2 linked regions of the Homo sapiens genome follow. The protein of the gene in region 2 purifies or fractionates together with the protein of the main gene of each other region. This does not show direct contact. Each region holds a gene or a part of one and is shown on either strand. Other genes may lie near its edges.

Region 1 (3,757 bases), on a different chromosome or scaffold from region 2:
GAATTCCAGAAAATGAGATGCTCCCCAAATTTCACATTGAATAGCCATACAATTTTCTAGCTGGAAGATACACAGAATAAGAAGCTATCTTCTTTAGCCACATTATCTATTGATAATCAGACTAAAACCAAGAAAGATAAAATGATTGGTCCAAAGCTCCTAAAGTGGCATTACCTAGCATTTTATGGCACCATTCAGGATTGTTCCATAATAATCAAAGAATATCTCTAGGCTTTGTATCTCTTGAAAACTCAAAGTACAGAATTCTTTCTGAGTTAAATATTAACTTTTTCACTCATGATTTATGCTACTTACATGATAGGATCATGTATGCCTACACTTACTACATTTTGTTAAACAACATAATGTAAAAATCTAATTCAACAGAAACATTTGAATATGAAGGTATACCTCTCTATCACCATCCTTATTTATTTCTGGTTCTTGAGACATTTTCTGCAGAGGCAAAAACAGAAGGTTAATTTGCTTGTTGTGTTTCTGTGATGTCTCCTCTTTTGGAGCGCATGTTTTAAAAAAATTTTATTCTTAACTAATGAAGTATGGACGATGAAAAATTAGAAAATAATTAAAATTAAAATTTAACTGTTAAATAAATAATAATTAAAATTAAGAATTAACTTTTTAATCTATGTTTAGCTACTGCCACATTACTGGCTTCTGACTAACATGTGAAAAATAATTCACCTTAGCCCAACGAAGAAAAAAAACGTGAACCAGCAAACTTAACTTGGTCACCATTTGTTTGGACTAAACTTGTTATGTGTTAAATCTACCAAAAATGAATCAGCAGATGATTTGTAGTGTTCCAAAATCTTCCTCACTTGAAAAGAGTTTACCTCATGAAACCCTAACTAGTGAGCCCCTACAGTGCACTGAAGTGCTTTTCTAAAAGATTCCTAACTGGATTGTAGGCACCATTTAAATTATTAGGAGCCGAAATCAACACCAAACAGAAAGAGATGCAATTTCTCAAATTTTAATTGAGATTATATACTGTCATATGATAGTGTTATGTATCCAGATTATCTGCTTAAGTCCAGTTCTAATATATTCTAATGTGTACTAATTACAGTGGATAAAGATTTTTTTAATAATATGTACTAATTTTCTGCAACTGAAATAAATTAGAATGTTATTGTGTTTGTGCACTAACACCAAAGGTTCCATTCTGCAAGATATGATTCTTGTAATAGGCAGCTGTGTTGCTTTTATGACCTGGTTCCCTCCCTGAACAGAAACGCTGAGGTCAATGAGAGACCATAAGGCAGAATATATTTTTAACCTTGGTATCAGTGACTGACAATATAAAACTGCAGATTTTCAATCACTGGCCATGATTACTCCTTAACCATGAATCCAGCTCAGGGACCATCAGAGTTACATTGTTCATAATTCTATTGCTTAATAACATAATCCAATAATTGATGTACCTTCTTCATCATGTTCGGGTGTTGTAAAAATAAAAGAACAAAGTTCTGAAATTTGTTTTTGCCTCTATTCCAAAAGGAAAGATTAGCTATAAGCTAATCAAAAAGGCAGATGAGAATATTTTAAATAAAAATATTATAAAATAAGAGTATTTTAAATTTTATAGTGGTTATGTTTTTTAAGTTAAATATCAAATGTTAAATTAGAATCCATTCTTCTGTTAATGAGATTACTGAATTTATTAAAATAAATTTTAACAATCTATTAAAAAATTCTTTAAAAAATCTATTGATTCTCAAAACCTAGTCTGAAAGGTAATTTCATTTGGACTATCTAATATTATTAAAGCAAAGAAAACAACATTAAATCAAAAATTTAAATTTAAAATTTCCCATGCCTCTGGCTGGCTATTTTCACTGCCTTTGAACCTTTGTGACTCTTCCTCTGATGTCAGCTTTAAGTCTTGTTCTGTTGAGAAATCCATATATTCAGTTAAAATGAACCACTTAGAACAGTTAAAAACTATTGCCTTTATAAAAATAGATTTAAGACAACATTTTATTTCATAAATTGAGTGTTTAGTTTTTCATGAAATAGTTATTTAGGAAATAATTCTCCCAAACTTCAACAAACCACTTGGGGAGACACCTGATGTCATTCACTCACAAATTCATCCACCCAACATAAATGAACAAAACCACCAGAAACACAACTTTAAAATACAGTAGAAACATATAAGGTAACACAGTATGTTGTTCTCCACTTCCTAATAGTGAAGCAGTAAATGTAAAGAAAAGGAAATTTAGTTTTAAAGAGAAACAAGTTTTCCCGCACTTAGCTAGTCTGACTCTAAGGATAGTAACAAGCAGGGCCCAGGAAAGGTCATGGTGACCCTGCCTGAGAAGCCAGAGCCCACAGGTATGGGCTCCAGACATCCCACAGCAAGGTTAAGAAAACAAAATCCTTTACTGTCTCCCCTTCCCCTCAGCATTCACTCAGAGCTGTTTTTACAAATGCATATTATTTGCAAGTTCCTGTTGTCCTTCAATGCAGCTGCAAGGTCATAAGCTACGCTGAGGTTGCAAAACTGTCACTATATGATTAACTGCCTTTGTTCTGCTTCTGTAAGCTTGCCTACATAAGCCAAGCCCTGTCTTTGTTCAGGGCTCAGCTTTCGGATGCAAATCCGCTGAGCTGGTGCGAACCTAAATGAAATCCTCCTGTTTCACCCACTTGGTCTCTCCTGCCTCCTGTTTTCTGCAACAATAGTACCTTACAAATGATTTCAAAAATTACTACTGACACCTTTATTAGTGTACAATCTCTTCCCAATATCTAAAATGTTTCCCTCCACGATTCAGACATATTTATTTTCATTTTTCTTTCTTTTTTTTTTTTTGAGCCAGGGTCTTGCTCTGTCACCAGGCTGGAGTGCAGTGGCGCAATCTCAGCTCACTGCAACCTCTGACACTCCCTGGTTCAAGCGATTCTCCTGTCTCAGTCTCCGGAGAAGCTGGGATTACAGGCATGCACCATCATGCCCTGCTAATTTTCGTGTTTTTAGTAGAGACGGGGTTTCACCATTGGCCATGATGGTCCTGATCTTTTGACCTTGTGATCTGCCTGCTCCAGCCTCCCAAAATGCTGGGATTAGAGGTGTGAGCCACCACACTTATCCTTATTTTTATCTTTTAAAACAATGCTATGAGAACGTCTTCCTTGATTCTGCATGTCTTTCCCCAGATAAACAGGTACCTCCTTCCTTGAGGCTGCCTTAGTACTTCACTGATTTTTCTACTGCATCTTTACCACCTGAACTCTACATTATTCCTCCACATGTCTGTCCCGTCTGCTCCAAGACTGCAGAGGACAGTCTTGCACATCATCTTACTCACATTTTACTCAGAAATTTCTTATTGAGTCCTGCTAAATACATGCTAGGCATTAGGGTTTAAAAACAATTAAAATAAAGCATGTCAGGGATGGCTTTTCTAGAAAACATGCCCAAGCAGAGACTTAAATATTGAGACTAGCCAGATTAAAAGGGGTAGAGGGCAGGAAAGGGTGACGGCATGCCACACAGCAGCAAGAGCGGGAGCGAGGCCTGAAAGAGTGAAAATATTTGCCTACAATAGAAGGATGAGTGAGTAGGGCATTGCCAGCAGCTCAGTAATGCCAGAGAAAGGGCACACAGGGAAAAGGCCTAAAGATGGAGAGTGGGGCAGAAGTCAGATTATGAAAGCCTTATGTGTAATTTTAAGATGCCTGGACATTAATGTTCAAGAGAGGTCCCTGATCCTATCTGCAT
Region 2 (5,219 bases):
ACGCAACCCTTGTAGAAGCAATTGAGCATTTCAGGAGAAGGCAGGCAGCTCCAGCCACCACTGCCCCCAACTCTCTGCAGGGAACAGTGCTTCTTGGACTGTCAGGGGACATTCTGAGAGGAACACTTCACCACCAACTCCCACCCCAACCCTTGACCATATTTCAGGTCAAGGTGGAACAGGTTACGCACTATGCAATGACCCGTGACCAGCAGGAGAGGCAGGCTGAAATGCAGCCTGTGCTCCTCTTGTGAAGCTGTGCACCCTAATATGACAGGGCTGTATTCACCTGGAGGAAGGGAGATATTTTCCTAATTAGCCCAAAGGCGCTATCCACTGCCCAGCTGCGTACTTATGGGGCTGCTTCCACTCAGAGGGGTGCCTTTTCCTAAGTCATACAAAGGGCGCCATATGGACGAATTGTAACCCTGGCTCTTGGCCTTTCTTTCCGCTGGCCACTGTCCTCTCATTTGGGCTCTTAAGAGGCCTTTCACTGGGCAGAGGGGGAAACTAAGTCCCAACGTCTGCTGCCATTAGCTTCCTTCTGAGGGAATTGCTCACAGGTCCCACATATCAGTGTCCAGTCAGGCTACAGATGGTTGGGCCAAGGGAGGACACCTGACCTAAGGGATCCCGCCAAAAGCTAAGCCAAACCAATCAGATCCTTTTGCTTGTGAATTGAAACTAAGAGGCACAGAGGGGAGTTGTCAGTCACTGGTGAGTCTTGATACCGAGTTGGAGATTCAGCCACTGTGTGCAACAAAACCAAAGAAGTCTGAAGAGAAGCCCAGGAAAAGAGCATGGATGCAAATACTGCCCAGGGAACAAGAGCCTGCAAGACCCAGAGATGGTAAGGAAGAGGCCCAGTTGCCAGTTCCAGTTCTCTTGAGGTTCAGCCAGTTTTTATTTTATTTTTATTTTTATTTTTTTATTTTTTTTGAGATGGAGTCTTGCTCTGTCACCAGGCTGGAGTGCAGTGGTGCGATCTCGGCTCACTGCAACCTCCGCTGCTCACTGCAACCTCAGCCTCCTGGGTTCAAGCAATTTTCCTGCCTCAGCCTCCCGAATAGCTGGGACTATAGGCGTGCACCACCATGCCCAGCTAATTTTTGTATTATTAGTATGTTGGCCAGGATGGTCTCGATCTCGACCTTGTGATCTGCCCCTTGGCCTCCCAAAGTACTGGGATTACAGGTGTGAGCCTCTGCGCTTGGCCTGAGGTTCAGTCATTCTTGATTTTCCATCTTCAGAGTCCCTTATAATCTGCTCCCCCATTTCTTTGAACTAGCTCAAGTGAGTCTCATGCCATGTTCCCAGAGTCCTTGCTAGAACAAGGACCTTGGCCCTTCACTGAGTGAGCCTCCCCAGGCCTCTTCTGTCCCTTTCTCCCCACCCCAATCCTGTCCCAGTGTAGGGAAGAGCAGGAGCCCTCAGCACAGTTGCACCTTTTATTCACTGTCAGTGGGGAAAGAAACACACCACACAGCACAGGGTTGAGCAGTGAGGGCAGTCACTGAGTGCACAGCCAGAAGCAGCACATCTGGAGGGGATAGGGGGCTACACTGGAACTGGCCTCCTTCCCCTGCTACCCAGACCCCCCACTTCCCCAAGCCTCCTTTCTACTGCTGCTTAGAAGGCCCTGGGCCTGACTGGCCTCCACCAAGCAGGAAGGGCTATACACCCTGGCAGGCCCAGTCCTGCCCCCACACTCTGGCAAAGGTAAAAAGAAAACCTCGAAAATTCCAGAAAGAAAATCCCATATTTTTCTGACTTTTTAATTCCAAGGTTTGAATTATTTCTTTTTTCAAGAATGATGAATAAAACATGTAAGACATTCTTGACCCCACAGTGATCTCTAAAGTCAGCTCAAAGCCTCACCCAGGGTGGATCTTCAGGAAATATTTGTTGCTTCAATACATTTTTGTGTAAAAAATATTTAGTGTCAGCTTACTACCCTGCCTGGAGACCCCAGCTTCTTCTCTTTCTTTTCTTTCCCCCATCCCACGCCATTCCTTCTCTCTCTGCAGCAAGGCAAATTTCTACCTCTAGAGACTCTGCCATTGTCAGGAAAGGATTTAGTGCCTTTACTTATGAACTAACTTTTTCTTCACTTTTGATATACAGGTAAGTTAAATAATCCTGACTACAGCTGAAAGGACTAAAGTGGCCATCTGAAGTAGCCTTTGCTGATAATTTTTAGAGATAAGAAATAAGATGCTCATCAATTAGCCCAAAAGGATGAATGAGGGTAGAGTATGTGAGAAGGCAGATTCTGGGACCTTGCAATTCACAGAGTTGTTGCAATAAGATTGGAATTTAAAGGAGAGTTTGAATATATCAATGTTTTGATTGTCTGTATATTTTTGTGTCTGTGCAAGTCATACATAAATCTCTGCCAGCCTTGTGCTTTGCGGCAAGTCTCTCTCAGCTGGTGCAGGGACGGGAGACCTGTGTCTCTTCTCAAGGCAGGGCCAGTGCTCTACCACAGTGCTCCTGAGCACACAGTCCCTGGGACACCCAGGAGTATGCAGGAGCATGTCCTGGGCCACCTGTTGTTCCTTCCATCAGCAAGATGGTGGTCCCAGTTCCTGGCCTGGCATTGTGTGTTCACACTGCTGGGCTGTCTGAGAATATTGGGCCTGAGGAGCAAAAATCACCCATGGGTATGTGTGTCCAGAAGCCTGGAGTAATCAAACACGCCTTCATGGGTAGGCATGTTTCTCTTAGTGAAGATGATGGTGGGTAAAGACAATGCAGGATGCTTCGAGGGTTCTGAGTCAGAGGACTCCCAGGACAGCACTGAGCTGTTAGCACAGCTGCCAGAGGCAGAACACTGAGTGCTTGAAAATGTGGGGACTTCAACCAAGCTCCTATTTTTTTTGGAAGACCACAATCTCAGAAGCTTTTTAGCAGGAAGCCTATAAAGGATGAATATCAATGTAACTTGCCCTGCTGTCAACCTCTGCACAGCTTAGTCACAGAAATGGACAGGGAAGAGACTCTGAAAAGAAGAAATCCTCTTAGAGCCTTGGTTCAAGTCTTAGCCCTGTGTCACCTCCTGACTATGTGATCTTGCACAAGGGATGCTTCCTCTCTGAATCTCAGCTTCCAAGTCTAGAGAAAAGAAGTGAAAATCCTCACCTCCATGGGATGTGAGTATAGAATGAGATGGGGCACATGGCAAGCCTTTGAAAGCCATGAAATTCTGTGTGGTTGCGAATTAGGCTAGATTCAGCATTTGCAGGGAAGGAACCTCACTTAGTGAAAAGCTTTTCACCAGAAGATTTAGGTCCCAGCTAAGCCAGGCTGGTGAGCATCTATGTGTCTGTGATGCTGACTGACCGCACAAGACATACCTAATAGCCAGTTCCTGGGAGCAATGCAACATCCTTGAGGCATTGCTGGATAAACAACTGCTAGTTCCTGCCTGAGGATGTGAACTCCCCAGCCTCACCATATGGCTGGTCATGAGCAAGAGGATAGCAAAAGGATAGCAACCCAGTGGTTGCAAACCAGTGGTTGCTATCCCCAGCAAGAGGATAGCAACCCAGTGGCCTTGCTACCTCCAAGGGCCCAGTAGAGCTTGGGACCAAGCTCTATTGATCAGCATCCCCCAGAGTTTTCACCTGCAGAGAAGCAGGACAGGTGGGCACTCAGGAGTGAGGAGCATGCTGCATCTCTTTCCTGCAGATGCAATTCCCCTGCCCCGGGCTCAGCAATCATTTCCTGCTCCCACCCTGGGCTGACAGCACCTGTGTACTAGACTGTTTTCACCGGCAGTTCAAGAGGAAATCAACTGTCACTGCACGTCAAAGGTAATTTCTGATCACAAGTACAGGAGAAAGACCTGATGAAGAAGCAAGATTAATTTTTCCGGCAGTCAAAGCATGCAGCTGTATAGCTCATGGATCCAAAATTGGGAAGCAGGCATTGGAAAGCAGAACCAGCACACTTGGAAGATGTTGAACTACCTGGCAGATCTAAGATTTGGGGTTAGAAAAAGCCTCTCAAACAGAGCATGCCTGGCACATTTTTAGGCATTTCGTCCATAAATTATGTCTGGGTGCCTAAACAGTGGCCAGGTGAGCCTTTTCTTCTAGCTCTTTCTGATTCTGTGGCAGTGAAGGAACAAGTCCAGTTCTGAAACTAAACCCAATCCAGAAACGAACTACCAAGATACGGAATATACACTAGTTTCACTCTTTGCAAACCTTGCTTTTTCCTGTCCCTGAAGTCAGCACCCAACCGGAGTAAGTATGTAGCAGAAAGTTGCTTGTTGAATTGAAAAAGGTAATAAAAAGGAAGAGCTGAAGCAGCAAAAACTGCTGAGAGTGGCAGCTCAGGACTTAGTCTTAAAAAGTGTTATCTGGTAAATTTCATGGTCTTTTCTCCCTTTCTTCTCAGGTTTTTTCCCCTTGAAAATTAATATTTTCTCTATTCATTTAATCATTTTATAAGAAACCAAGTAATATAGAGTATATTTTAACCTCCTGAAATAATAAAATGACTGTAGCTCCTTTAAAGGGTACTAAAAAAATAAGTATGACATAAATTTCATTTTTCTTAAAACTTTCACTCACGTGGCTCCTAAACTTCCAAATGCTTTTCATTTCGTCCTTCTGCAGCTTTGTGTGGAGCTGAGCTGGAAGATGAAATAGCTCCTCCCAGACTAACCAGCCTTCCAGCACCTTCTGCTTAGCTGAGACCCTGACGGCTGGAAGTTTGCCTCACAACCCTATGAGCTTCCAGAGGGCACAAGATGTGTCTTGTAAATGACCATATCCTTAGCACCAAACAGGTGCTCAGTAATCATTAGCTGAAGAAAGGACTGAATGAACGCTCCAAAGGCTGGGGCTGGAAGGGCCAGGTAGAGTAGAAGGGATGGGGAAGAGACCCCCTTTATGGGATCTGGAGCCTCAGGAATGGACAGACCCAATTTGGCCCTGTGACAGGCCTGTGGGACCACATCCTATAAAGCATAATCCCAGGATCAAGAGAATTCCTAACCAGAACCCCAGGCCCCCAACTCCTTAACCTCACCTCCTGGGGCAAAAGCCAACTCCCCTATGCCCAATGGACATTGGTTCTGGCCAAGTGGGAGGTGGGGCTAGAAGACAGGGTACTGGAGGACCTGTCTCTTTTGCAGGGTGAGGTGGTCCCTCAAAGATCTTGATGGAGGGGAGGAAGGGCTTGGGCAGAGGACTGGGTGGGCCAGAGAG

The links.
Region 1: the proteins of HPCAL4 (region 2) and POTEI purify together in Homo sapiens (affinity purification with mass spectrometry; one large-scale study listed by BioGRID and IntAct). This does not show direct contact.

The regions. Positions count from the first base shown.
Region 1 is NC_000002.12:130,488,824-130,492,580, forward strand, and holds part of POTEI (POTE ankyrin domain family member I), read right to left. Parts: intron 1,918-3,757; coding exon 1,847-1,917; intron 457-1,846; coding exon 412-456; intron 1-411.
Region 2 is NC_000001.11:39,677,214-39,682,432, forward strand, and holds the end of HPCAL4 (hippocalcin-like protein 4), read right to left. Parts: 3' UTR 1,435-5,219; downstream 1-1,434. UniProt on the Homo sapiens protein: May be involved in the calcium-dependent regulation of rhodopsin phosphorylation.